Linked DNA regions of Homo sapiens. The protein of the gene in region 1 interacts with the protein of each later gene in a biochemical or structural test. Each region holds a gene or a part of one and is shown in the gene's direction. Other genes may lie near its edges.

What was found.
Region 2: the proteins of FRMPD1 (region 1) and SCN4B interact in a test that uses a peptide from one of them, tested with the Homo sapiens proteins (one large-scale study listed by IntAct).
Region 3: the proteins of FRMPD1 (region 1) and KCNJ4 interact in a test that uses a peptide from one of them, tested with the Homo sapiens proteins (one large-scale study listed by IntAct).
Region 4: the proteins of FRMPD1 (region 1) and SDK2 interact in a test that uses a peptide from one of them, tested with the Homo sapiens proteins (one large-scale study listed by IntAct).
Region 5: the proteins of FRMPD1 (region 1) and ARHGAP21 interact in a test that uses a peptide from one of them, tested with the Homo sapiens proteins (one large-scale study listed by IntAct).
Region 6: the proteins of FRMPD1 (region 1) and KCNV1 interact in a test that uses a peptide from one of them, tested with the Homo sapiens proteins (one large-scale study listed by IntAct).
Region 7: the proteins of FRMPD1 (region 1) and SLC45A4 interact in a test that uses a peptide from one of them, tested with the Homo sapiens proteins (one large-scale study listed by IntAct).

Annotation. Positions count from the first base shown.
Region 1 is NC_000009.12:37,657,122-37,661,050, forward strand, and holds part of FRMPD1 (FERM and PDZ domain-containing protein 1), read left to right. Parts: intron 1-3,929. UniProt on the Homo sapiens protein: Stabilizes membrane-bound GPSM1, and thereby promotes its interaction with GNAI1.
Region 2 is NC_000011.10:118,145,970-118,149,898, reverse strand, and holds part of SCN4B (sodium channel regulatory subunit beta-4 isoform 1 precursor), read left to right. Parts: intron 1-3,929. UniProt on the Homo sapiens protein: Regulatory subunit of multiple voltage-gated sodium (Nav) channels directly mediating the depolarization of excitable membranes.
Region 3 is NC_000022.11:38,444,958-38,448,886, reverse strand, and holds part of KCNJ4 (inward rectifier potassium channel 4), read left to right. Parts: intron 1-3,929. UniProt on the Homo sapiens protein: Inward rectifier potassium channels are characterized by a greater tendency to allow potassium to flow into the cell rather than out of it.
Region 4 is NC_000017.11:73,396,409-73,400,337, reverse strand, and holds part of SDK2 (protein sidekick-2 precursor), read left to right. Parts: intron 1-1,048; coding exon 1,049-1,170; intron 1,171-1,908; coding exon 1,909-2,018; intron 2,019-2,152; coding exon 2,153-2,303; intron 2,304-2,855; coding exon of another isoform or gene 2,856-2,930; exon of another isoform or gene 2,931-3,295; intron 3,296-3,929.
Region 5 is NC_000010.11:24,713,509-24,717,437, reverse strand, and holds part of ARHGAP21 (rho GTPase-activating protein 21), read left to right. Parts: intron 1-3,929. UniProt on the Homo sapiens protein: Functions as a GTPase-activating protein (GAP) for RHOA and CDC42. Downstream partner of ARF1 which may control Golgi apparatus structure and function. Also required for CTNNA1 recruitment to adherens junctions.
Region 6 is NC_000008.11:109,972,667-109,977,392, reverse strand, and holds the start of KCNV1 (potassium voltage-gated channel subfamily V member 1), read left to right. Parts: upstream 1-1,621; 5' UTR 1,622-1,774; intron 1,775-2,200; 5' UTR 2,201-3,004; coding exon 3,005-3,465; intron 3,466-4,605; coding exon 4,606-4,726. UniProt on the Homo sapiens protein: Potassium channel subunit that does not form functional channels by itself. Modulates KCNB1 and KCNB2 channel activity by shifting the threshold for inactivation to more negative values and by slowing the rate of inactivation.
Region 7 is NC_000008.11:141,217,692-141,221,620, reverse strand, and holds part of SLC45A4 (solute carrier family 45 member 4), read left to right. Parts: coding exon 1-44; intron 45-1,791; coding exon 1,792-1,971; intron 1,972-2,591; coding exon 2,592-3,610; intron 3,611-3,929. UniProt on the Homo sapiens protein: Proton-associated sucrose transporter. May be able to transport also glucose and fructose.

The DNA of each region.
Region 1 (3,929 bases):
TCTGAGATTTTTGACTTAAGAGAAGACAGATGTGCAGGCAGCTGAGAAATGCTGTGCTTCCTGTTCTTTGAGTATCTAGAATATAGGGTGTAGGCTACAGCTTGTATTAAAACCAACGATAACAATCCCACCTCCCCTGCCAGTTGAAACCCCTGTCTGATGCTGACTTGTAACTATTCACATGTGAAGCTTCTGAGTTACTGCTTTGTTGTTTTCTTTGCTCCAATGTAGAATTCAGAAGGATGCAAAAGGAAAAACAATTATTAAAGACGAGGATGGCATTTATTCGTTCTTATAAAAATAATTTATTTAGTAGCTGCAGTCTCTGTTCTCTCTGGCTTTCCCTGGAAAAAGACACCACTCCAGACTGTCCAGGGCTCCCCTGGTACCTGTGAATGTGCTGTTAGTTCCTGGTCTGGTTAGAAGATGATGTCTCTGTGGAGATACATACTTGGCCTCTTTCTTTCTCCCTGGGGTGAGGGACATTTTATGTATAGGAGATGGAAGAATAGACGGTCTCTTTCTCAAGCTCATTCCTGGTTATTTTCAGTACTTAGCTCTTTGCAAAAACTGCGTAATAAGTGTCTTAGTGAGAGTGTGCCTTGTTTATGTGCTGAAAACCTAGATTCACACATATGTTTCCAGATATTTTAGCTACCAGCATAGACCCTCAAACAAGACTGCCAGCTCCGGAGATGATCAAGTACAGCCTTTGTGTGGTGCAGGAATTCCCCTAGCATACCCAGCCTCCCTCTGCTTGGACCTACCAACCCCCACCACCTTCCTATTCCATCCTCAGTTGGCTCTGGTTATTACAAAGTTCTTCATTATTCCAAGCCAAAAATCTTCCTCTCGGCAATGGTTGCCCCATTGGCCCGATCCTGTCCTTTGAAGCCCCACACACAAAAAATCCATTTCTTCTTCCCTATGACAGCTAGTTAGGCCACTTGGACCTTCAAAGACAGGGATCAGGCCCCCACATCTTCACTTCTTTAGGCAGAATGCCCACTTTATCTGGCCCCCTGAAAAGCTAAGAATGGGACACCGCTGTGCAGGTGGGGGTCTGATCAGCCCAGACAGGAGCAAGCCCACTGCAGCCTCACTTCGGAATCTATATTTGCGTTAGCACAGCCTGAGGCCAGTTAGGTCCCGGTGGGTCCCCCTTCTGAGCTGTGCACTGGGCCACTACGGAACTGCATGCACTTTGGCGTCAGAGAGACCCGAGTGTCCTGGCCCAGTGGTTGACGTGGGGTCGGGTGAGTGAGCCCCCTCTCTGGGACTCAGATCCCTCATCTGTCTGACTACTTCTTAGGTGCTGTATTTTTTCCTGTAAATGCTGTAACAAATCACCTCAATCTTGGCTTAAAACAGCAGAACTGTGTCCTTGAACAGTTCTGGAGGCCAGAAGTACAAAATCGAGATGTTGGTAGTGCTGCTGTCCCACTGGAGTCTCTAAGGGGAATCCTTCCTTTGTCACTTCCAGCTTCTGGTGCCCACTGGCATTTCTTGACTTGTGGCTGCATCACTCCAGTCTCTGCCTCCCTGGTCACGTTGCCTCCTCCTGTCTGTTTCAAATCTTTGTTTCACTCTTATAAGGACACTTGTCCTGAGATTTAGGGTCCATCTGGATAATCCAAGGATAAGCACGTCATCTAAAGATCATTAATTTAATTATAGGTGTAAAAATCCTTTTTCCAAATAAGATCACATTTACAGGTTCCTGGGATTGGGACTTGGAATTATTTATTTATTTATTTATTTTTGAGACTGGGTTTGGCTCTGTCACCCAGGCTGGAGTGCAGTGGCATGATCAAGCTCACTGCAGTGCTGATCTCCTGGGCTCAAGTGATCCTCCCACCTCAGCCTTCTAAATTGCTGGGACTATAGGCGCACACCAACTGGCTAATTTTTAAATTTTATTTTTAGTAGAGATGAGGCCTTGCTATGTTGCTCAGACTGATCTCAAACTCCTGAGCTTAAGCAGTCCTCCTGTCCCAGCCTCCCAAAGTGCTGGGATGACGGGTGTGAGCTACTACATCCAGCCAAGACTTGGATATCTTTTTAGGGTGGCCGCCATTCAGCCATTGGCTCTCTACTTTCTCTACTTTTGCAACTCCCTTTTGTTTCTATTGTATTTGAACCCAGCTCTCCAGGGTCACTGGCCTCAGATCCTCAGGCCACATGTCTTCTGTCTCCTCCTTCCTTCAGCATCCTGGCTGCTGCTCTGAAGGGTGCCGGGGCTGTTCCTATCACTCCTGTTGTACAGATGTGGGTGGGGCCCTCAGGGATTAGGCTGCCTAGGAGAAAGCTCAGGTCTTTCTGGTGCATACCCTCATTTCCACCAGCATGCTATGGCGAGTCCAGTGGAGGTTTTGTCAGTGGGAAGGAGAAGCTGTGGCTATTAAAATATTCATTGCCGGTTCTCAGACGTAGGGAAGATCCCACAGTGAATGTGCTCTGGACAAAGAAGGGACACATAGTGGAAGACTTATGTCTTCACATTTTCCCACTAATTTAGACTGAGATTGGCTCACTGAATTTGAGGGAAATTATATTCTCAGTGCCCAAATACTCTGTAAAAAATCAGGAAATGCTCCTTGACAACCCTGTAAGGGCATAGTAGTATCATCTTCTTGCCCTACAACTAGCCTGTTTCAGAAGTTCCATGGTCCTTTAAGTGTGATCTCCAGTCTGCTGCTGGCTTCTGGGCTCTCCAAATGCAACTCCCACTAAAATGTGCTTTTCTCCACAAAGAGAGTGCGCTGCTTTGTTTGCAGTTGACTTTTCAAGCACTAAAAAAAAAAAAAAAAAAACAAAACTGAGGGGCAAGCAGAAGAGCTGCGTCTGGTGAAGCTAGTAGTGGAGCTGAGAGAAAGCAGGGGGAGGGTAGTGGCCTGGGAAGTTCTGGACACTGAGCAGCTCCAGACTCTCCACTCATTGCTGCCCCCAGGATTCCTGTCCGACGGCATCCTCCTAGATGGCTGCTGCACTCATTTCAATGTGCTTTGCTAAGAAAGGCCTGTGTGGGGATAGGGGCTGGGGAGGAGAGGCGGGGAGGGAGGAGAGAGATGAATCAGACAGTCCCTGCCCCACCTGCGGCTGGAAGTAAGTCAGTGCTGGGCAGGGTGCTGTGCTTTGCAGAGACCCTTGGGAGCCTAGCAAGGGCTGGCCATGCCTTGCAGGGAGATCTAGGAGGGCTTCTGGGAGGGACTGGCATTTGAACCGAGCCCTAGTGGGTGACTAGGAGATAAAGAAGAGAAAGATGGATAGAACAGTGTATCCAAAGTTGACCTCAGGTGGCCCCCTTCCTGGTCATCATCCGATGGAGCTGCACTGGAAGAAGCTCAGGTCTTACAGGGACCTTAAGGACCATCTAGTAAGGAAGATATTCAGACTGCACTGCTTAGAGACCTCCGCTTCTCATTTCTCTTAAAGAACAGTGATTTTAAAGTAGGTTTAAACAATGGGTTTAAAGAACAGTGATTTTCCATTTTGACAAGGCTTGTTTGGTATAGCCACTTCAAAATATCCCCACATCAAAATATGATGCTTTATCTGGGATATCTTTTCCAGACTTTGGGAGCCTTCCCTCCTGCACTTTCATTTCTGCAAGGCAATACTCCCCAGACAGTGTGGTCATGGGGTGTTGCTGTGTAACCTTCCCCACTTGACTGTGAGCTTCCTGGGCAGGGACCGAGCCTTGCTGCTCATTCAGTACGGAGCCCAGAAGGAGGCCTGGGGGGTACAGTGTTGACCGATGAAATGAATGAATGCATGGCTATGACTACTTCCTTAGCTGCATCTGGCTCCCAGCTGCCTTCATTGGTCTCTACAGTCATCAGTAGTATCCTGGCTAAGTCAAGAGCATATGTGGGCCTCTGTGTTTCTCCATCTTATATTCTCTCCTGGAGTTGGTTTGCTATATCAGC
Region 2 (3,929 bases), on another chromosome or scaffold:
TGGAGGTGCAAGCCTGTGGGGGCACCTGAGAGAGAAGGCTGGAGTTCCAAAGCTCTTATGACTGGCCCCCTTCTGGTGGGATCAGCATGAGAGGGAGACTGGGCACAGCAGACCACCTTGCCCTGCTGCCAGTCCTCAAGGAGGTGTAGGGATCTCTGCATAAGCCAGGGGTGGGCCGTGCCAACACAACCTGCTCTCTGGCCTGTAAGAGGAGGGACAGGCATGCTGCTGGGACTTGTTTGCAAAGCTGGTTTCACTGAGCATCCCATGCTGTCTCAGGGGCATGCTTTCATACCAGCAAAGCTCCTGGGGATGGGCAGGAAGCAGGTAGGTTGCCTAGGGAGAGAAAGCTGAAATCTTTCCTTTGTCTCTGGGCCCAGGGGCCTTACCTGGCCCATCCCTGCCTCCCAAAGCCCCCAGGGCCTGCACCCCAGGAGGGGTCCTGTCCTGCTGGCCTCAGCCCACTTTCTGCCCCCCAGCTCTAACTTTGAGCCTTTCTAACTCTCCCTGGGCCAGAGTGTATCAGCCTCCCTATTAAAGTCAGCCGTGTGTCCACTTGCCATGCCAGCAAGCCCTCAGAGCTATATTTAGAGTGGGTACCAGCCTGCCCCTCTTTCCTCCCCGCATCCTGGGGTGGCTGTGAGTGATCCCTGGATGTGGGAAAAGGTGGTGGAAAGTTTTCTGCCTCCACATTTGCCTTGGGATATATGGTAGCTGCCATAAGATTCCTGCTGGTGTGAATATTTAATAATATGATTTGCATGTGCTGAATACTTTTCCACTTTAACAAAAGTGATCCTGAGTCAGTCCTCAGACAAAACCCCAGATGAGGATGGCAGGGGGCCAGGACTTCAGAGAAGGCAAAGAAAATGGCTGCTCTGAGAGTGGCTTTTTAGTGAGGAAAAGCAAGATTTTGGGGTTCAGGATGGAATTCCACAGGATCAGGACTGGGAAGAGTTGTTCCTCAATTCCACAATGCCGGAAAGAGGCCCCCCACTCTCACACACACACACACGTACACTTTAACATTCTAGAATTAACTTTAGAAAACAGCAAAGCAAGGCTTTCTTTACTCCGGGGAAATGGCCACATGGAAATAAGCCAAGAAGTGGTAGAGGGTGAAAATACAGATCAATGTGGGAATGGCCTGGAGACATTCTTGGCTGACACTGGTTATTCAGGGAAGCTAGGGGTGCCCTGGTTACCTGTGATGAGGGACACCCTTGTCCCCTGCTCCCCTTTCAAATACCACCCTCCTCTACCTGCAGGGTGCCCACTCACGGCGGCCCCTCTTGTGTTTTATAATCTCCTGTTCTGGCTTCACACCAAGCTTGAGAAGTAGGAAAGAGGCATCCCTGCCCTGGCTTGGGGATATGCACACCGGATGTGGCACCTCTGACTTTCTCAAGGTCAGCTGGCAGAGTGGGGCCTGCCTTGCGCATGCTCACCAGTCCTCTCTGGACTTGGTCATCCTGAAGCAGCCCTCCGGCGGCCTTTGTGGACCAACACCTGCCCCTGGTTCCCCCCTCTCCCCCAGAGCAGCCTCATAGGAGACACTGAGTTCAATGGGAGGCAGGCCCCTCGGCTTTCTTGTGCATGACCCTCCCAGACATAACTGGCAGGACTGCATGACTCCCGACTGGGAGGGCTGTGCACTGAAGAAGCCAGGCTTGCCCACCCTCTCTGATGCTTTCACTCGGGCAGGGCTCTGGACTCTGTGAAACCATTTCTGCCGGTTTTCATTTTCCCCTCCCAGCTACTGAGGAAATGGCAATGCTTCACTTGCAGAGTCCTGAGTGTATTGGACTTAAGTCATCCACATAGGTGCACACAAACCAGGCAGAAACGTGTACTGTGTCATGAGCCAGACCTTAAAGATACAGTGTTCCCCTCTCTTCTGGACCCATCTTTTGCTCGTTTTTGCTTCTATTTAAAGCAATCAATAAGATTTCCTTTTCGCACGCATCTTTTGTGCTCTTGAATATCTCTTTCTGGCTAGGGTTGAGGTGGGGAGATTTGGGCACGGATTTGAGTTCCCCCATCTCCTCCAGGACCCTGATTCCTGGACCGGTATGCTGATGAGGAGGAGCTGCCACACTCCTTGGTGCCCTGAGGGAGGCCATTAGCTATCAGGAAGCTGCCTTGTCTGACAGCTTCCCTGTCCACTGCTCTGCATTCACTTCCTGTTTGTGGGGGCTGTGGAGGGTGGGAAGCAGAGTTGGTATCTCCCACCAAAAGGTTCTAGTGCTGGCTGCAGACTGGAGAGTGGGATCTTGTGTCTGGCTTCTGTCCCTAGACCTCTGGGGGAGATGGGGCGGAGGAGGGCAGAGGTAAACAGAAAGGCAGGAGTTCTATGGAGTGCTAAGCCCTGATAGCAGTGTTTTTCTTGGAGAGTGTGGTTGGTCACAGAGTGGTGGAAAGGGGCTAATATCTGAACGCTGCTTATTCCACTCACTGGGTGTGTGGCCATGAGCAAGGTAATCTTTTTAAGCCTGTTTCCTCATTTGTTTATTGGGAATAAAAATAGTAACTTATAGGATTATGATGAGGGTTAAATGAGACAGTGTATATAAAATACCTCTCCTATCCTATAGTAACTGCTCAGTCTCAAATTCACCATTTACTCTGTGGCCCTGGGCAAGTCAACTCTCTGAGCCTCAGTTTCATCATATATAAAATGGGAACATTATACCTGCCTTTGAGCATTCTAATAAAAGTCGTAGTTAGTATGCACAAATCCTCTCGCACCGTGGTTCTCAAAGTGTGGTCCCTGCGCACAGCATTCCCTGGGAACTTTCTCGAAATGTAAAAGCTCAGGCTCCACTCCAGACCTGAATCAGAACTCCAGGGGCTGGGCGGAGCCAGCCGTAACTGTTCTCCAGGGGATTCTGATGCGCTCTCAAGTTTGAAAACCATGGCTCTAGAACAAATCCTGGTTGGCCACAAATCCTAGGAGCTGGCCAAAAATAAAGGCTAATTGAAATAACTTCCCAGCACTAATTGGAGCCCTGGTGGGTAGATCTGGGTCTCTTAGGCAAGTTACATAACCTCTCTAGGCTCAGTTGTCTCACCTACAATGTGGACCTATAATAGTACGTGACTCATAGGACAGGCCGTGAGGATGAAATGTGCCTGGCACATAGTAGATGCTCAGTTAATATCAGCTAGTACTATTGTTAGCGACAATGGCCGAATCACGATGGGGTTACTGGACCACGGGGTGTGATTTTAGGGCTGGGGGATATAAGCACTTCACTTTGTCATCAGAAGCTAAGGGCACAGGAAGAAGCTGAGCAAGCAGGGCTGCCTGCTGTCCTTGGAGATCCTTTTCTGTCATTTGAAAAGCATTGCTCAGACGCATTATCATCCGGTGGGGGCAAAACAAGAGGTTTATGATGCAGAACAGGGAATTAAGTTAGACAACAGAGGGCCTTCCTGAGAGTGGGGTTGGAAGGTGCCAGTGTCCTCTAGGGAGGAGGTGAGGCAGGCATCCACTTCCAGACACCCTCCCCGCCCCCGCCTCCACCGACCTTGAGGCGAGTGGGGTTTCCTTGGGGCATCTGCAGGACTGGGGGTGGGTGTGTGTGTGGGGCGGGGTGGCGGGGAACCAGGCCCCCTTACAAGGACTCCGGAGCGGGAGTTTGGAGGCCGTGAGTGGAGAGGCCTAGTCCCAGCGGAGGGGGCCGCATCGGAGTGCTGGGGCGGAGGTTCGAAGCGTGAGAAAGAAGCCTGGGGGCGCTCGGGGACGAGGGGGCGGAGTGTGGCGAGAAGGCCGGGCTGCAGGGCTCAGGAGGGGACCGCGGGTCCAGCGCCCTCCCCGTCCCGCCCCCGCGCGCGTGCACTCGGGCTGGCCCGGAATCCCTCCCCAGGGTGTCTTCTGCCACTGACTTTCCCACCCTGGCTGCGCCCGCGCGCCCCCGCGGCTGCCA
Region 3 (3,929 bases), on another chromosome or scaffold:
ATGGGAGGTGCAGTTGGGCGGAGGAGCTCCCTGGGACTGGGATGGAGGAGAAGCCCCCACCAAGCCTGGCCCAGCAGCTCCTGTCTGCGGCTGCATTGGCCTTCTCTCCATTTCCTCTCCTGGGAGATGGAGAAACCGAGTCCGGAGACCACCAGGGTTTGCCCAGGGTCACTCAGCAATGGTGGCAGAGCCTCTCAACCCGGAGCTGCTCCTGACTCCTCTGTGTCCTGATGGCTCCCAGGGCTGCCGGCCCCTCCTCTCTCACTGACACTCCCCAGAGCTGTGGGGTCTGTGGGAGGCGAGCAGGGTCTGGGTCTCTTTAAGCTCCTTCTCCCCAGAAAATCCCCAGATCGGAGCGAGGGGAAGGGCAGCACTCCCTGGTCACAGCAGTAGGAAGGGTGGCCTGCGTCAGGGGCCTGGGATCGAATCCCAGCTCAGCCCCTCACTGGCTCCGCATGACCTTGACTAGGCCACTGTCCATCTGGGGGCCTCTCTTTGCCCCTCTGTGTATCGGGGGCCACCCATGGGGATGGTGGGGCGTGCTCAGCCTTTTCCTGTTTTGCCTGTCCTGGGAGAAGCTCACACACCAGCGACCCGGGCTGCAGGGATGGGAGGGTTCCTTTTTTTTTTTTTTTTTTTTAAGACGGAGTTTCGCTCTTGTCACCCAGGCTGGAATGCAATGGCACAATCTCAGCTCAGTGCAACCTCTGCCTCCCGGGTTCAAGCGATTCTCCTGCCTCAGCCTTCCAAGTAGCTGGGACTACAGGCATGCGCCACCATGCCCGGCTACTTTTTTCTTTTCTTTTCTTTTCTTTTTTTTTTTTTTTGAGAGTCTCACTGTGTCTCTCAGGCTGGAGTGCAGTGGTGCAATCTCGGCTCACTGCAACCTCCCCCTCCCAGATTCAAGTGATTCTTCCGCCTCAGCCTCCCGAGTAGCTGGGACTACAGGCGTGTGCCACCACGTCTGGCTAATTTTTGTATTTTTAGTAGAGACGAAGTTTCACCATGTTGGTCAGGCTGGTCTTGAACTCCTGACCTTGTGATCCGCCTGCCTCAGCCTCCCAAAGTGCTGGGATTACAGGGGTGAGCCACTGCACCCGGACGGGAGGGTTCTTTAGCTGGGCCACAGGAGAGGGTGCATGTGCTGTGGGGAGCTGACCCCATTTTACTGATGGGGAGATTCAGGCCTAGGGGAGGGGTGTGCCCATCTTCAAGTTGGTGGCAGAGTTGGCCCCTGGGACACCTCAGTGAAGCTTCCCCCAACCCCCTGCAGCTCCTCTCCCAGCCCCCACCCTAGACTCCCCCAGGAGCCTCCCCTCTCCTCATAGGCCTGAGAAGCCCAGGACCCTCTGCCCTGTGAGTGTGAAGGTACCACTCAGCCTGGGAGACAAATGGGATGGGGTCCGCAATTAGGGGCTCCTTGGGGCCATACAGGGGAGGTGGTGGGCACAGGCTGGAGAGGCCCTGGCTGGGGGTGAAATGGAGCAGGCAGAGGGGCTTTGGGCATCCTTCAAACCTCGTGCCCATGGATACCCTTCTGCAGTTATCCTGAGAAATGGGCCTCAAGTCCCTCCTCACTGTTCCTCACGGGGAGCTCCCCATCTCCGGGGAAGCCCACTCGTGTCTGGAAGGTTCTGCTAATTGATCCCTGACTCCCTCTTTCCTTCGCCCTGCCCTCTGGGGCAGAGAAACCCAGCCTGCTCTCAGCAAGACAGGAGGAGTGGCCCACCTCCCCCTCCCCTACCCCAAGGCTCCTCCAGCCTCAGTTGTCCCAGGCGAGGCCCGTGACTGGGAAACAGAAGATCTGGGTTCATGTCCAGCTCCACCCCTTAGCAGCTGCGGAATCTGGGGCAGGTTTTTCACCTCTCTGAGCCTTTACCCCCTGCCCCGTAAGGGTGGGCGTTTGCCTCTGTTTCTTTTTTTTTTTTTTTTGAGATGGAGTCTCGCTCTGTTGCCCAAGCTGGAGAGCAGTGGCGCGATCTCAGCTTACTGCAACCTCCGCCTCCCAGTTCAAGCAATTCTCTGGCCTCAGCCTCCCAAGTAGCTAGGACTACAGGTGCGCACCACCATGCTCGGTTAATTTTTGTATTTTTAGTAGAGATGGGGTTTCACTATGTTGGCCAGGCTGGTCTCGAACTCCTGACCCTCATGTGATCCATCCACCTCAGCCTCCCAAAGTGGTGGGATTATAGGTATGAGCCACCGTGCCTGGCCCTTTGCATCTGTTTCTGAGGGTGACTGGGAAGATCCTGTGAGCCTGTGAGTGAATGAATGTATCATAGCTCGTTGATATGAACTACTTTGTGACCCAACCACTCAAGGGCACTGCTGGGCCTGATTTCCAGACCCCCATCACCAGCCACTGCCTTGGGGTACCACTTCTCTGGACAGCTGAGCCTCCCCCGGCCCTCCCTCACCCAGGCCCCCAGAACTGCTTTGGTGGGCAAGGCTGGCTGAGTGCCAGCCCCGCCATGAGGCTTCAGATCCTGAGCCCACCTGACCTTGGAAAGGGCCTCTCTCTGGCTGGGCTCCAAGGCTGCCCCCAACAGACACCCGGCAGTGGCTGGGCAGCAGAGAGAGAGAACTGGGTGGGGCAGAGAGAGGACCACTTGCCAGAGCTGTCCCGGCTCCCTGAGACAACAGGCTAGAGGACAGAGGAGAATGGCCAGCCAGCCACGGGCGGGGCCCCACTTAGCAGCTACATCAGCAGCCCGGCAGAGCTTACTCCTCACAGTCAAGTGGGCTGCCTGAGAAGTGGGTGAGCGCCCTGTCCTGGGAGATGTGTAAGCAACTGCTGAATGGCATCTGTTATCAGGGCAGGAGGGGGCTCTATTAAAAGACCCGGGGAAAAAATTGGAACCAGACCCCAAAGAGTCCCTGTTATTTGGGCTGCAGAGTGGCGGTCCTGTGAGCTGGGGGGTCTAACAGACTTTTCCCAGTATTCCCCCATAACATCCAACAATTCCCCACATGGTTGTGTGTCACAAAGCCCGGAGTCCAAGCACCGCCCGTCACAGCTTCAAGACACACGCCGGATCCCATTTCACCGCTCCTAACCCCCACTCAGGCCAGTGCTTTAAAATTGCACACAGGTCCTGCCCCGTTAGTGGGTTGGGAAATTGACTTAGTGAGTTGCACTACTTGTTTTCCGAAAATGAAATTAAAAAGAAAATTTCAAAATACTATGCATGTAGTGAGGGTAAATATTATTTTGTGACGCTCTTACTTCAGCTTTAAATATATAGCCGGGTGCAGTGGCTCACGCCTGTAATCCCAGCACGTTGGGAGGCCGAGGCGGGAGGATGGCAAGAACCCAGGAGGTTGCAATTGAGCTGTGATCGCATCACTGCACTCCAGCCTGGGCATTGGAGCAAGACTCTGTCTCTAAAAAATAAATATAAAGTAAGTTAAAATAACAAACAGGATGTTTGCTTTTACTACGGATTTTGGTCAAAAAACTTGAAAGCTACTGTCCTGTGTAGAAATCCAGGAGGCGCCCTGATAGAGGTTCTGATGCTCAGGTTCCGATTTCCCTGGATGTTTGGTTCCTAAAGACATAGGTGCCACAACTTCCAGGATGCTGCTGTCCTGCCCTCAGAAGTAGCCGCCTGTCCCTTGCTCAGTGGACCACCCAGGTCCAGGCACCCATGCTCCTCCAGAGCCACCACCTCTCCCCAGGGCCTAGATCCCAGGCCGGGCCAAATTCCCTGCTTTCCGCTCAGCCCAGGCCCAGCCCTGCTCTGTCCTTGTGCCCTCCTGCTTGCCCTCATCTTCCTAGGACCTTCTCTTTATGCCCTTTCACACACACACACGCACACACACGCATGCACGCACACATGCGTGCACGGAGCTCAGCAAAGCCGGTTTGTGACTTACCTGCTTCCCTTCAGCATACAGTAGGTGCTCAATAAATGTTCACTCAATTATTT
Region 4 (3,929 bases), on another chromosome or scaffold:
GAAGGGTTGGTTGGGAGGTGGCAGAGCACGGTGGGGCTACTCCTAGGCCTGGCACAGAGAGCAAGCCGAGGTCCACTCTCAGCTCTGCTTCTGCCAAGCCCTACAACCTTGAGCAAGTTCTGTGTCCCCTCTGTGCCTCAGTTTCCCCATCTGTATATATGGGAAGTTGGACCAGATAACCATGTGGTCCCATCCAGATCAGTCAGGCAGTGCTTGTTTGACCTGCCAGCATCCCTCCACCTGCTGCGTAGATGGCTGGGCTGCCTGAGTCTCAGCCAAAGCCCAGTGATAATTACAGCCATGCTGGCAAATAGGTATGTAGTGTTCACGGGGCATGGTGCTGGGAGCTTTGCTCACGTTGACTCATTTAATCCTCACAACAACCCTGAGGGAGGTGTTGCTATTATCCTCTTCATTACCAAGGAGGACATGGAGGCACAGAGAGTTGGATAACTTGTGCAAAGACACACAGCCTGTAAGTAGTGGAGTTAGATTTAAACTCATTCTGACTCCAGAATCTGTGTTCTTTCTGTTGTTCCTGAGCTCCAAGAGCCCCAGGATTCCTGGCCAGAAAATAAGCTTCCCCCTGTCCCCACCCATCCTCTCACCTTCCTGAGCTGTAATTAGGCGTAGGAGGTGTGCAGGGGTCTGGGCGGATGGAAGGGAGGATCGGTCCCGTTTGGTTTCTTTCTCAGCACAGCTTGGTTTTAATGCAGCTTTTAGCTGCCTTATGATTACCTCACTCACATCCAGAACTGCCAGGAAGAAGGCGGCATCCCGGCCCCTGTTTCCTGGCCCTGAGAGCCTCCTCTCAGCCCTAGGAGATCCCCTTTGACCCCCAACTCTGTCTCAGCCTCCTGGCATGAACATGGTTCTCCGTAAGACACAGGAACAAAGACTGTGGGTGGAGTGGGGCCGTGGCTGTGCTTCTCCTCAGACATTTCCAGGAAAAGCGTGACACACAGCCCCCTCCATGCCCAACAGTCCCGTTCAACATGGGGGGCCATTCTCACCGGATCTCCTTCCCCACCCTGTTCTCCTTTTCCAGAACTCCCAGGGCCCCCCACCAACCTGGGCATTTCCAACATCGGCCCCCGCTCTGTGACCTTGCAGTTCAGGCCAGGCTACGATGGGAAAACCTCCATCTCCCGCTGGCTGGTGGAAGCCCAGGTAGGGCAGGCCTGGGGCCTGACCAGCAGCCCCCGCCAGGGCACCCCGTGCCCTTGAGTGCAAAATCTTATGTGTATTTCGGCCTGTGTGAATTTTCATGTGCAGCTCTCAATGGCCCATTATACTCCAAATGCTCACACTTGCCAATGTTGTCTCCAACTCCCCCTGCCCCTCACCTGTGTACATGGAAAAACACACACACACTACAGTCCCCTCCTGGGTCGGGGGGTGCCTAGAAAAATACCCAGTTGCTGGAATATAAAAATATCCGCCTTGGCTGTACCCTGGAATCATCAGGGGAGCGTTCAGAAGCGCCAACACCTGTGCCCCTACCCCAGAAACTCTGATTCTGATTTAGCTGATTTGAGGGGCAGCCTGGGTCTCTGGAAGTACCCGGGGTGTTCAAGAGAATCACCTGGGCTGCTTGTTAAAAGCACAGATTCCTGGGCAGCACTCGAGGGATTCTGTAAGTAGTGGAGTTAGATTTAAACTCATTCTGACTCCAGAATCCAGGAATATATTGATCACAAGCATCCTGAGAGATTCTAAGGCAGGAGGGTTGAGTCACACTTGCAGTCATGTTTAGGGGCCTGGAAAGATGGTAGCCCCATATGGTGCCCTCCAGATGAGCCCTGGGTTCTGAACCAACTTCTTCCCTGGCAGGGCTTGTACTGGGGCTCGGAGCACCCCGTGTGGGCCCTGTAGGCTGGACAGGCCTAAGATCCTGCCCTTTTCCAGGTAGGCGTGGTTGGGGAGGGAGAGGAGTGGTTGCTGATCCACCAGCTCTCCAATGAGCCCGATGCCCGCTCCATGGAGGTGCCCGACCTCAACCCCTTCACCTGCTACAGGTAATGAGACTGGCCCGGGGAGAAGGCAGCAGCCTCAGGGCTGGGGGTGGGTGGGGGCTATGGCCCAGACCAGGACAGGGTTGAGAGTTGGGTGAGCTGCCCTTACCATCTTGCTCATCTCTCCCCAACCCCAGCTTCCGCATGCGCCAGGTGAACATCGTGGGCACCAGCCCCCCCAGTCAGCCTTCTAGAAAGATCCAGACCCTGCAGGCACCCCCTGACATGGCCCCAGCCAATGTGTCTCTGCGCACAGCCAGTGAGACCAGCCTGTGGCTGCGCTGGATGGTAAGGCTCCCTCGAGGGCAGGGGTGGGACCTCTCCATGAGCTTCTGGTCATTGCCTCCTAGAAGGTGCACATCAGAATTCCTACAGCTCCTTTCTCCTCTCTTTCTGTTTTCTGATGAGATGCCTGATAATCAACATCTTAGCCCAACGAACAAATGCCCCCCCGCCCGCCGATGAGAGGAAGGAGCTCAAAAATACTGTTTACTGAGCATCGCCAAGTGGCAAGCATTTTAAATTTTCATCCCATTTGATTCTCCCAATAATCTTACAAAGGATACATGATCATCCCAATTTACAGCTAAGAAAACTGAGGCTCAGAGAGGTTAAGAACTTGCCCACAGCCACACAGCTCCCAAGCGGCGGGTCTGGGGTTCAAGTGCCACTGTGGCATTCAGAGAGTGTCCCCAGATCCGGGCTGTGTGTTGAGGGTCCTGACCGTGGGCCATCCTGCACGAGGTAGTGACAGTAACACACCGAGGCTTCCTCTCCTACCAGGCGCTGTTCTGACAACAAGCCTGTGACAGCAGAGTGATCCTGGTCCCCCTTTTGCAGATGAGGAAACCGGGGCAGAAGAGAGGTCAGATCACTCGCCCAAGTTCTCCCGTATCCTCCCACGTGCTTTCATGAACAGCAGGGCTGAGGTCCCAACCCGGGGAATCTTTACCCGCAAGTCCACAGCCCTAACCATCGGGCACACTGCCGTCTCATCCTCTGGAGAACAGGCCACTTCTCCCCACCAGGCCCTCTGGAACATCGTTTCCCAGCACGTGTCCCACAGAGCAGCAATCCCAGGAGGCGTGTGGAGCAAACAAGAATTCTTAGACAAATAAATGTGGGAACAGCACCACATACCACAGCTCCATAGAGAATCCAGGAACACTAGCATAGCAGGAGCCCTCTTGACCCTGCTTCCCCAGGCCCATCTGACCACACAAACCCTTTGTTTCCACGTAAGATCTCACTCATTGTGCAAAACACAACTTGCAAACACACCACACTGTGAAGTCATTATTGCCGTTCCTGTGCGCGGACAGCTTGATGCTAGCGGCCATGAAAGCGCTTGGCGCCGTCAGTCCTCGATAAATATGAGTTATTGATTGCAGTTCCCTTCCCAGAGTGGCTGGTGCCTGAGCAGAGCTGCAGAGCTGTCTCGGCCCACCTCAGTGCCCCGTGCACAGTGTGACTATACCCACCTCCTGCCTCTTTGCTCCCAGGCATCCCCACCCCAGGCTGGCTCCCTGCTTCCTTCCTGAATCTCACTTTAAGGTTTGCAGCTACTAAAAGGTTAGAGCCTGATGCGGAGGGCAGGGACTGCATGGGGGAATAGAAAGGCAGCTGCCATGTGGCACAGGGCCCTAGACACTTCTCAGGCCCACGCTTAATGGTGCGTGGTCCATTACCTTTCCTCAGCAGGTAAAGGAACTTGCACTTAAGCCCCATCTCCGGCTCTCAGGACCATCGATTGCTATCTTAATGGTCTTTGGTCGGCTTCACTAAGTGTCTGCAGGAGGGAGGAAGCGTGTAGTGAGCAGGGGAGGTTGGGGCCGAAGGTGAGGAGTGGGGTAAAGTGGGTCAGCCTAGGGTGAGCCTGTGGACCAAGGGCCCTCCAGAGCCCCTGGGGAAGCA
Region 5 (3,929 bases), on another chromosome or scaffold:
TTTCAGGAATACCAGTTACAAGTTTATCTATATCCCCCTTGGATTGCAGTCCCTATAAGAGCAGGGACCATGTTTGTTTCCACAGGGACTGACACATAGTAAGTGTCAGGTGATATTTTTTGAATGAATAAATGAATATGCAGGAAAGGCTTTACATTTTATTCAGTGTTCATTTAGATTCCCGGACATTATACTCTCTTGATTATCTTCCTTCCTCGTTGTCACCTCCTTCTGTCTCTTTGAGGTTTCCTCGACATCCTGATTTGCTAAACCTTTCTACACCTCAAAGCTCAGTTAATCCTCATTTCTTCTCCCAATACTGTTTCATGGTTTTAAATATCAAGTATATGCAGATAATTGACACACACACACTCACTTATATTTCTTTATGTGTACATGTGTATATCTCTATTGCTGACCTGCTCCTCTGTCTCGCAGAATCAGATTCCTATATCCAACTGACCTGACTGCCTAGAATCTCCATTTGAATAGTAAATAGGCATATCTAAAACCACAATCCTGACTCTACCTCCATTCCCCTGGCCCACCTTCCCAAGTATGCTCCTTCCAGTCTTCCTCATCTCAAGCAATAGCAATCCCATCCTTCCAGGCCAGGCATCTTGGAGTGATCTTTGATGTCTCTCTTTTTTCTCATATATGACATGTGGATCTGGTTGACTGATTTCTCCACTTCAGTCCTTGCCAGCCTAAAGCCTGTTCTCCACACAGCAATCAGGACAGACAATTTATAAATCAAGTTGTGTCATTCCTTTGCTCAAATTCCTCAAATGGCTTCTCATTTCTCTGAAGATTGAAGGCCAAAGTTCTTGCAGTGACCTGCAAAGCCCTGTATAATTGGTCCTTCCCCCTCCCTGAGCGCACCTCCTGTGCCTCTTCCCGCCTCACTCTGTGCTAGCCATTCTGGTCTCTTGCTTTTCTGCATGTACACAAACGTGGGAGTCCCCAGAGCCTTCCCACTCACTGAACCCTCCCCTTAGAACACTTCCCCCAGTCTCTGCACAGCTTGCTTCCTTGGCTCCTTCGGGCTTTTGCTTAGAGGTCACCTTCCGAGTGAAGCTTTGCCAACCACTCCCTTTGTTGAATGCCCCTCCCCTGCTCCCTGTGCCATGCTCTGCCTTCCTTCCTTGCTTTATCTCCCTATCACTTAGTCTCCACCCGGCATGCTTATGCATTTGATTTTGTTTGTTTATTTGAGACAGGTAATATATCTAGAACGCAGGTGTTGAGAGTGCAGTTTGTCTGTTTTGTTCACATTGTGTTTCTTGTGCCTAGAAGAGTGCCTAGCACATAATAGGTTGTCAATAAATATGTTTTTGGAATGAATAAAGACTTAGCAAAACTCCAAAATGTTACTGAGTTTGCATTTGGACATGTAGTATGTGAATTCTTATTTATTTTATTTCTTTTTGAGACAGAGCCTTGCATTGTCACGCAGGCTTGAGTGCAGTGGTGCAATCTGCGCTCACAGCAACCTCCGCCTCCCAGGCTCAAGTGATTCTCCTGCCTCAGCCTCCTGAGTAGCTGGGATTACAGGCGTGTGCCAGCATGCCTGGTTAATTTTTGTATGTTTAGTAGAGATGGGGTTTTGCCATGTTGCCCAGGCTGGTCTCGAACTCCTGATCTCAAAGTGATCCACCCACCTCATCCTCCCAAAGTGCTGGAATTACAGGTGTGAGCCACTGCGCCCAGCTGAATACTTATTTTAGTTTATATAAAATATGTACAGTATGAAATATGTTCTTCCTTAGACCTCCTGCCCACCTTAAATTCTATTTCATTTCCGTTAGAACTGCTGTTAAAATTTTTGGTGCCTTTTTTCTTTGCACCTTTTTTACCTTTGGGAAGCTGGTAACCAAGTAACAGTAACCAAGACAATGTGTAGTACAAATGTATGAAACAATTTCCACTAAGAGATGAGATCATGATAATTAACAGACAAGTGAAAGGGCAATCAGACTGGTCGATAAGAGAAGCTATAAAAAGATAATCTGTATGGATGATGTTTTATTTCTTAAAACGAATGGCTAGTATATGGATGTTCCTTATTATGTATTTTTATTTTTTCATGTCATAAATATTTCATAACCAGTTAAAAAAAGATCACAAACATTGACCGTGATGAAATGTTAACAGTTGTTTATTCTGAATGATGAGAATATCAGGATTATATTATTTTTACATTTTCTCTTTTTTATTACCAAAATGACAATAAAAGAACACTATGTATAGACTTTAAAAATAGGTAATATGTATTCAGTCTTGTGAAAATTTGGTTTGTGGCAAACCTACACTGCTTAAAACAATACTAAAAAGCATACACACTGCTCAAAGCAACACTTAAAAAACAATTTTTTCTTTTTCTTTTCTTTTCTTTTCTTTTTTTTTTTGAGATGGACTCTCACTCTGTCGCCCAGGCTGGAGTGCAGTGGCGTGATCTTGGCTCACTGAAAGCTCTGCCTCGCGGGCTCATGCCTTTCTCCTGCCTCAGCCTCCCGAGTAGCTGGGACTACAGGCGCCCGCCACCATGCCTGGCTAATTTTTTGTATTTTTAGTAGAGACGGGGTTTCACCGTGTTAGGATGGTCTCGATCTCCTGACCTTGTGATCTGCCTACTGTGGCCTCCCAAAGTGCTAGGATTACAGGCGTGAACCACCGTGCCCGGCCAAAAAACAATTTTTAAAAAGCAAGTTTCTTCATTGGAGGCATAGGATTCATTCTAGACTAGTTACAGTATGGTATAACTCTATTATTTAATTTTAATTTTGTGTTTCTTCATACACCTGAATTTAAGTGTCAGAATACTGTTCCATGCCAAAAGTTTTATGCTGCAAGTTAGGGTTAAAGCTAAAACCTGTTAGAATTGAGAATGATGGCAGTAGCAGCAGCAGGGATCATTAAGTGGCATTTCGGCAGAAGCCTGGATTTTAATGTATTGAGTGGGGCCTATCACTAGATAAGAGCCATCAGCAAAGTGAGTACCCAGATCTAAAGAATTTCTCCGTAAATTGTTAGTGTTCCTTCCCATTCATTTCTTCCAGGTTAAGCGTTTTATGAAGTTCATTGTGCCTTGATGTTCTTCATTTCTTTAGTTACTACCAGGTCAAGTAATCTAGCACAAAGGTAATATTCAGTTTCTTTTGTTCTTTGCTTTGTGAAGGGTCCTGTCTTCTTATTATAGTTAACAATATGCTGATTTAAGTATGGGCAATGCTAGCGTTGATAAGATGCACAGATGCTGTTATTCAATGCAGCTATTTTCTGTTACAGAAAGACCATATGGTAGGCACTTGTTTTTCTGTCTAGTTGATGTGATTAGATTACTAAAACGAAAGGTTATTGGACTTAAAGATTGTCCTACTATTTTATCTAATTTTAATTGACTGTAAGTAATTAAATGTGTTAAAATATTGTAAGCCTTCCATATCTTCCCTGGTTTGAAGTAGAAAGATATCTAAATGCAAAAAACTCAATTTTGGATTGCTTTCACTAAAATAGTTTTATGGTTTAAGTTGCCATGTTCTTATAAAATTGGGTATTGTGCAAATTATTTCACAATCTAATCTGGATGATGGCATTTTGTGCTTCTCAAATAATCCAAAAGACAAATGGATATATTGTACTATAGGTTTGAGAAACTTGATGTGGGCTGGACGTGGTGGCTAATGCCTGTCATCCCAGTACTTTGGGAGGTAGAGTCGGGAGGATTGCTTGAGCCCAGGAGTTTGAGACCAGCCTGGACCAAATAGGGAGACCCCCATCACTTAAAAAAAAAAAAAAAGAAAAAAAGAAACTTGATGTGATGGAAATGTTTTATAAGTCCTCTTCTAGTTATCTATTTAATGTGCAAGAATTTCCACTATGTAGATTTGTGAATAAAAGAATAGATTGAGAACCCAAATTTGATATTT
Region 6 (4,726 bases), on another chromosome or scaffold:
CCTCAGTCATCTTTCACTAACCTCTGGTTACCTGTCCAAGATCTCTCTCCTCACCTAAAGCTGGCATTCTCCTTTGAATGCTTTCCTCTTTCCTCACCATAATCTGTAAAGCTAGTATAGACTTTCATTGCTAATCATGGTATGAATAAGCCTTAACAGAACTATGGCCTTTTGCTTTTTTTCAATACCTATATAATCTACAATTGAGATGCTGGAGGAGTTTTCTTGCTGTGCAGGGGAAAGCTCTGCTACATTAAAAAATAATAACGATACAGTACCTATACAGAATGAAGAACTGTTGACTGGGATAATTCTAGCATTTCTGTATTTACTGTATGGAAGAGTTCTTTAAGGAGAAAAGTTAACCAAATGGATGGCTGTCAAAAGAACCATGCTTATAAATATTATAGTTTAAAAAAGTTTATTGAAGTCCCCCATTTATTCTCAGAGGATTACTATAAGCTCCACAACAACAGAGATCTTGTCTATTCTTCATTGATACATCGCAAGTACCTTGAATAGTGCCAGTATATAGTGAATGCTCAGTAAACTTTTGTTGAAAGAGTGATGAAAATACCTCATTAAACTCCTGTCCTTCATTAGAAACTTGTAAACAAAGAAAATAAAAACAATCACACTGATTTATCAACAAAAAATAATGTTTCTAGAATTTTGTTTATGAAGGCAGCCTCTGACATGTAGTCCTGGGTTTGATTTGAACTGTGTGGCCCTTTGCAAATCACTTAATTTCCCTGTGCCTCACTTTTCCTTTCTGTAAAATGGATATATGCTACCTCATAGTGTTGTCATTATGATTAAATAAGGTACTGCATGAATAAAGAGCCTACAAATTTCCTGGCATAAAGTAAGCACCCATTAAATGTTGGGTGTTTTCATTAAAGCTTGAAATTTCACTGAGGAAGGCACTGAGACCCTCAAAGTAAATGATAGCTAGACGTCCCACAGCCAGTTGGCAAAGCTAGAACTAAACAGTCACGTTTCTGTCCAATCTATGAAAAAGCTTATTCTACTACATCAGGCTGCCTGCTTATGTCTTTATATATACTACCTAATACGTGTGTGTGTGTATGCTTTCTAATATATACTTATATATGTAAGTGTATCCATAATATATGCTTTCCAATATGTATTCTATATATACATACTAGAAAACAACGAAGATGAGTGTGGTTCACTCTCTCTGGCAAAGACTTGAAAAATGCATGATTCTGAGATGCCTGCTGAAAATGTGAAAACCTTGAACCATGCCAAATGAAGCAGTTAATATAACTGCCCTAACCTCAAGTTTAGCACACTGATCCAGTTGGAAATTTTGCTCTGGAGCATTTACAAAAGCACAGATCCGGGGAAACGGGAATCAAATGCAGTAATTCTGCAAGTGTATTCAGGATGAATGTAATATTGAGTGTCACCGGGCACCTCACTACCCCCCGCCTCCACCCCCGCCGTCTCACCTCCCTCCCTTAGATCCTGCCACTCCCCTCTGCTGGTGCTGGAAGCACTGGGCGAGTGGCTCTCAGAGCTAGAGCGGGCGGGGCGGACACGCTTAGCGTAAGCGCAGGGGCCAGGAGCCCGGAGGGAGGTGGAGGCGGGGCAAGGCAAGGCAGCAGGCGCTGGGTAGAGCTCAGCTGGAACACAGTTTCCCTCCTGGACCGGTCGAGTCAGACCTCACGTGTAGACTAAGAGGATCAAAAGAAGAGTACGTTACCTGCGGCGCCGGTTGTGCGCAGACCAGATGTGCCGGGAGCTGCAGGTGAGTCACTTGCTCTTCCCTCCCACCCCCACCTCCTCACCCCGAGTCCAACAGGTTGGCTGGAGCGCAGCTTCCAGGGGCCCCGTGGGTACACTTCTAGTCTCACCTGGGCGCTGGCCTCGGCTTCTCCCTTTACCGAGGGAGGCCGTCGTTACTATTTAAATTCCTGCCCCAGCCCACGCTTGTTCTATTCCTTGTCTTTTTGCCTTTCCTTCTAAAATGAGAGCTCCGCTGTGCTCAGAACACCTGCTCTCCGGGAAACTTGTAGGGACAGAAATGGTTAAAAGGAAGGGTGCCTCAAAAAAGTGCCTCAACACGAGGTGGACCCTCGACAGGGTGGGAGCTGACAGTGACACTCCTAGTTCTTAGTGACCCACTGGGTCTTCAATAAAAAGTCATCATTAATTATTCTTGTTTCTCAACCAGGAGGTCAGAACCTAAGGGAGACGGCGGAAGAAAATGGAGCGTCAGTGATCATCAGACTAGAATGAGAGTGAATTGGGAGAAAATGGTGCGGCCCCCTCACCCAGAGAACCCTCCCCCACCTGCTCACACCCCCAGCGAACACCCCGGGGGAGGCCTATGAAGCAGCAGTAAAAGAAAAGGGAGGAATATAAATTCTCAAGTTGGAAGGGACCCGGTTACCACTTCCTTTGCTTTCTGAACTTTTTGTTTTGGTCTCCTGCGGGCAGGAGTGAGTCTCGCCATCCCCCTTGCTTGCTTGCTTGCTTGCGTTCAGCTAAGAGTCATCTTCTCTCCTCTTCCTCCTCCTCCGCCCCACATCTCCCTCCTTCCTCCCTTCCCCAACCCCTCCACCCACCAAGTAGCGAGTCATTCAATCTGTACACCTCCTGGGCTGGGAATCGCAATTGCGAAGTTGGGAGGCGGGGTGACAACGTTTGGGAAGGGCCAGGGCGACCGGCAGTGTGCACAGGGACTGTGTCGGGCTTGGACCTCACCTGATCCTCTCTCTTAGCGCGACCCTTCCTCTGCTCCCTGTCTCCTCTTTCTGCCACTTGTGCGCTGCTTCCGCGCACTCCCGGCTCCCTAGCGGCAGGAGGAGGAAGGCGCACAGCGGGTGGAGAGGGTGCGCCAAGGAGAGGTAACCCCTTCGGGAGCCCGGGGAATCCCGGCCGCCACCAGGGGCCGTGCCACCGCCCTCGCGGGACCAAAGCTTCCGGCGTGTCCCCAACTTTGTGGCGCCCTCAGGCCGCGGCGACTGGGTTAGAGATGCCTTCCAGCGGCAGAGCGCTGCTGGACTCGCCGCTGGACAGCGGCTCCCTGACCTCCCTGGACTCTAGTGTCTTCTGCAGCGAGGGTGAAGGGGAGCCCTTGGCGCTCGGGGACTGCTTCACGGTCAACGTGGGCGGCAGCCGCTTCGTGCTCTCGCAGCAGGCGCTGTCCTGCTTCCCGCACACGCGCCTTGGCAAGCTGGCCGTGGTGGTGGCTTCCTACCGCCGCCCCGGGGCCCTGGCCGCCGTGCCCAGCCCTCTGGAGCTTTGCGACGATGCCAACCCCGTGGACAACGAGTACTTCTTCGACCGCAGCTCGCAGGCGTTCCGATATGTCCTGCACTACTACCGCACCGGCCGCCTGCATGTCATGGAGCAGCTGTGCGCGCTCTCCTTCCTGCAGGAGATCCAGTACTGGGGCATCGATGAGCTCAGCATCGATTCCTGCTGCAGGGACAGGTACCCCGGAGGCACGCGGCGGCTGGGCGGGGAGGCGGGCGCGGCAGAGAAAGAGAGGAAGGCACAGGTAGATTTGAGGCTTTACACAAGCTTCGCTGGAGCCAGGCCTAGCAATAAGGTGTGGCCACTTCTGGGCTGACAGGTGGGGTGGGGGTGGGGGACTGGAAAGCATCAACGCCAACTTTTGAATAGAACTTTTTGAATCTCTTTGTTCCCTTTTTTGAGTATGCTAATTTAACGTATAAGGCAAGGGACTTCAGGCCCACAATAAATATTTGGTGACTGAATAAATGAATCAGAAACGCCATGCTCCAAAAATGCATGCATAGGGATAAAAGATTTGGCACGCAGCATTATCATTTATCAAACCTAGAACACTGACTTTGAAAAACTTGAATGGAGAATTGTTTTAAATATAGAAGATAAAAGGTTGGTCCCTTGATTGAATGATTGTGGAACTCTGAGGTTACCTTGCTATTACTACCATTTCTTCATGAATACATTTCCTTTACACACACACAAAAAAGTTCCACCTGCCAAACATCTGTTCTTACCAGAAAATGGGTAATAAAATGTATTAATCCAAAGTAGCTTTACTATGTATACACTTCTACTAAGAAAGTGTCATTTTAAAAATTATAATCCAGGCCGGTCGTGGTGGCTCACGCCTGTAATCCCAGCACTTTGGGAGGCCGAGGCGGGTGGATCACTTGAGGCCAAGAGTTCGAGACCCCCCCTGGACAACATGGTGAAACCCTGTCTCTACTAAAAATACAAAAATTACCCGGGGGTGCTGGTGGTGCGTACCTGTAATCCCAGCTACTCAGGAGGCTGGGGCAGAAGAATCGCTTGAACCTGGGAAGCGGAGGCTACAGTAAGCCGAGATCACTCCGCTGCACTCCAGCCTGGGCGACAGAGCAAGACTCCGTCTCAAAAAAAAAAAAAAAAGGAAAAATAATCATAATTCTAAGGGAGAAATTCTGAATACTGTGGGTAAGACACAACCTAAGTAAAATATGAATAGACATTTTTCTGCATTTTGTTGAATGAAAAAGTCTGACCTCCCTGCCATGTTTAATTATCTTATACTTCTGTATTTTAATAAAGTTAGACTAATCACCAAATTGTTTTCTCTAAAAGATACTTCAGAAGGAAAGAGCTGAGTGAAACTTTAGACTTCAAGAAGGACACAGAAGACCAGGAAAGTCAACATGAGAGTGAACAGGACTTCTCCCAAGGACCTTGTCCCACTGTTCGCCAG
Region 7 (3,929 bases), on another chromosome or scaffold:
CGTCCTCTTTGGCGTTGCACTTTTCCTTAACGGCTCTGCCATCGGTAAGTTTCTCGGCCACACCTGGTGTCCTCACAACACAGACGGGGTCCTGGCCCTGGGTAGCTCCTCTCATTAAAAGCTGAATGGTGTTGAATATTCAGGCTGACCCTCTGTGGGCCTGGCTGGGCTGCCGGGGCCACCCTGGCGGTGACCACCCCTGGCAGCGCCGAAGCTGGCCCCATGTGGGAAAGCCGGAGGAACCTGTTCACAGGGAAACGCTTCCTGTTGTGATGGTTTGTTTTTAATGCGTATCTGACACCACGTCCTGTTTCCAGCATTCTTTCAGAAATTATCTTGTCTTTTTTTGTTCTCCTTTTCTTCGACTTGGTGTTAAAATGTCCAGAACCTGGTTTGATGTTTGTGTTTTGCCTTCTTGGTTGTTGTTTTCTTTTGAATTAAAGCAACTCTGTGTGGGAAAATAGTTTTTGCCTTGAGGGCACCCATCAAAACTGTTAAAACATTTTTCTGGCAAGAACTTTTTGAGACAGAGGAGCTTAATCTGTGTTCTGAACTAGAGGAACTTGCCCCGGGCCTGCACTGATGCGGAGGGAGCTGAGGGAGTTAAGCGGCAGGAGGAGAGGCCCCGGGACGCTTCTCAGAGCCTGAGTGGGCACTGGCCATGGGGTGGGCTTCGTCGCCAACAGGCGATGCCTCTGACTGCGTGTGGGGGTGCGGCTGCCCTGGCGCCTGCTGGGCGCGGAGCTGCCGGCCCCCTGCCTGTCCGTGTCCCTCGAGAGCAGCCCTCCCCTCCCTGCTGGAACAACGTGGCTTCCCAGGGCTGTGTCCTTGGGGGTGGTCCTGCCCAAATGTGACCCAGATGGCAGCCAGCTTGGGAGCCCCAGCCCCTCTGCCTCGGAGCCGTCGCCTGCCCGTGGTCTGAGGAGGCCAGCAAGGACCACCTGGGCAGAAAGCCCTTCTCCCGCGCCTCCCACGGACAGGTGTGTCTGTGTTCAGGCCTGGGTCCCGGGCTCTGGCCCGCAATTCCTCTAATCTTGTCAGGAGGGCACTGCTTGTCTCCCTGGTGGGAAGTGGAGACCCAAGGTGAGCCTCAGCCATCAACATTGATCTGGATTCAGGGGCAGACTCCCCTGAGGCAGGAGGGACATGGGTGGGACTGCTTTTGAGTGCCGGCAGCCCACTGCAGGAGGACTCGTAGGTGAGGTGCGGCCACTGGCATCTTTCTCTCTAGAGCCACGTCTCCTGAACCCAGGCTGCCCCGAGAACTTGTGTGCAAAGCCCCTAAAGTTTGGGGTGTCGTTTCCTTTCAGACCTAGAGCAGGCCCAGCGAGACCCCCTGCGCCTGCCTCGCGAAGCCTCATCAGTGTCCCCTGCGGGTTGTCTGTGGCATGAGCGCCTTTCCCTGTGGGCGTCTGCACTACCATGTGCGGCCTTCTTAGCGACAGTGAATTCATGCTTCCAGCACAGCAGCCGTCCTCTGATGGCCGGGGTAGAAAGGTCTATTCTTCCCCTTTCTGTTTGAAAAACATCAAGGGCGCGTAAACCCTTGGAGGTCTGATAAACAGCTAACCGAACGGGGAGAAAAACCCTGGAACCCTCAGAAGTGCGTGGAACAAAGCCCAACTCCTTTCCGCTGCCTCTGTGCCTAAGAGCCTCTCTCTTGTGCTGGAAGGCTGGCATGGTTTTGTGGCCGTGCCCCCTCCGCATGCCCCTTCCATGTGGCTGTTTGCTATCAGGCCCACCCTGGCCAGTGCTTGAGGACCTGACCGCCCTCCCGTGTGCTCTGCGCAGGTCTGGCCCTCGGCGATGTCCCCAACCGGCAGCCCATTGGCATCGTGCTCACGGTGCTGGGAGTGGTGGTCCTGGACTTCAGCGCCGATGCCACCGAGGGGCCCATCCGTGCCTATCTGCTGGACGTGGTGGACAGCGAGGAGCAGGACATGGCCCTCAACATCCACGCCTTCTCTGCCGGTAACGCTGCCGCACCAAGGCTGGGTGGCCGGGTTCCAACGTGCCCGGGCCTGGTGTGGGGAGGGGACAGGAGCCTGTGTTGTCAGCGCTGCCTCATCAGGCTGCATGGAGGGTTGAGGCAGTGGGCAGGGTCTTAGGGCTGGAAGGTAACCAGGGGCAGCCCCTCCTGACCACCAAGCACAGTGGGGCCAAGGCACTGAGGAGCTTCAAGGGGCAGGAGGCCAGGCCTGCAGAGGGTGACATGCATGCTGGCACAGTGAACCTCCCAGCCCTGCACTGACCTTGCCCTCCAGCAGGGCAGTACTCCCATCCAGGGTGAACGTGGCCAGCTCCGTATGCAGAGGGAATGCCCTTCAGTGCAGAGAGGCGCACACTTGCATCCGTCCTGGGGTAGTCTGCCCTTCATTGATCAAGGGGCAGTTCTGTCGGGTCAGAATTCTCAGACCCAGCAGCAGCTGCAGTTTCTTGTTTTGTTTTCCTACTGCTTTCTCCTTCTCCAGCCCCTGACTCCCATCATGAGGGCAGCCCCGGCCCCCTGTTAGAGGGAGAGGCCCTCCCAGAGCTTCCCCCCCTGTGGCCTGGTGCCACCGGCTCACCGGCTGCTGCTTCCTCCCACGCAGGCCTCGGCGGAGCCATCGGCTACGTGCTGGGTGGGCTGGACTGGACCCAGACCTTCCTGGGCAGCTGGTTCCGGACCCAGAACCAGGTGCTCTTCTTCTTTGCCGCCATCATCTTCACGGTGTCCGTGGCCCTGCACCTGTTCAGCATCGACGAGGAGCAGTACAGCCCGCAGCAGGAGCGCAGCGCTGAGGAGCCCGGCGCCCTGGATGGGGGCGAGCCGCACGGCGTCCCTGCCTTCCCAGACGAGGTACAGTCGGAGCACGAGCTGGCCCTGGACTACCCGGACGTGGACATCATGCGCAGCAAAAGCGACTCGGCATTGCACGTGCCGGACACCGCGCTGGACCTGGAGCCCGAGCTGCTGTTCCTGCACGACATCGAGCCCTCCATCTTCCACGACGCCTCCTACCCCGCCACCCCCCGCAGCACCAGCCAGGAGCTCGCCAAGACCAAGCTGCCCCGCCTGGCCACCTTCCTCAAGGAAGCCGCCAAGGAGGACGAGACCTTGCTGGATAATCACTTGAATGAAGCTAAAGTCCCAAACGGAAGTGGCTCCCCCACAAAAGACGCCCTCGGCGGCTACACCAGGGTGGACACGAAGCCCTCGGCCACGTCGAGCTCCATGCGGCGGCGGCGGCACGCGTTCCGCAGGCAGGCCTCCAGCACCTTCTCCTACTACGGCAAGCTTGGGTCCCACTGCTACCGCTACCGGCGCGCCAACGCCGTGGTGCTGATCAAGCCGTCGCGCAGCATGAGCGACCTGTACGACATGCAGAAGCGGCAGCGGCAGCACCGGCACCGGAACCAGAGCGGGGCCACCACCTCCAGCGGGGACACCGAGAGTGAGGAGGGGGAGGGCGAGACCACGGTGCGCCTGCTGTGGCTCTCCATGCTGAAGATGCCCAGGGAGCTGATGCGGCTGTGCCTCTGCCACCTCCTCACCTGGTTCTCTGTCATCGCCGAGGCCGTGTTCTACACCGACTTCATGGGCCAGGTCATCTTCGAAGGCGACCCCAAGGTGAGTGCTCGGCCACCGGAGCGGGGCCGCTCTCTCTGCCCACCTGCGGCTCACGGAGAAGCTCACGGGCTGGGCCGGGGGGCCTCTTCCTCGTGCCCACGCGTGTCAGGGAGGCCACACAGTGCCTCCCGTGCAGGTGAGGGACCCGCGGCAGGCAGCTGGCCCGCGCGCGCCTCTGGGAACTTGGTGGGGGCCGTCCTGGGGTCATGGGGTGGGTTGCAGTGAGGCCCGCGGTGAGCAGTCGTGAATGCTGATACTGGTGTGAACGGGGTGTCTGTTACTGTGTGTCAGACTACCCCAAAACGGCAGCTAAGATAAT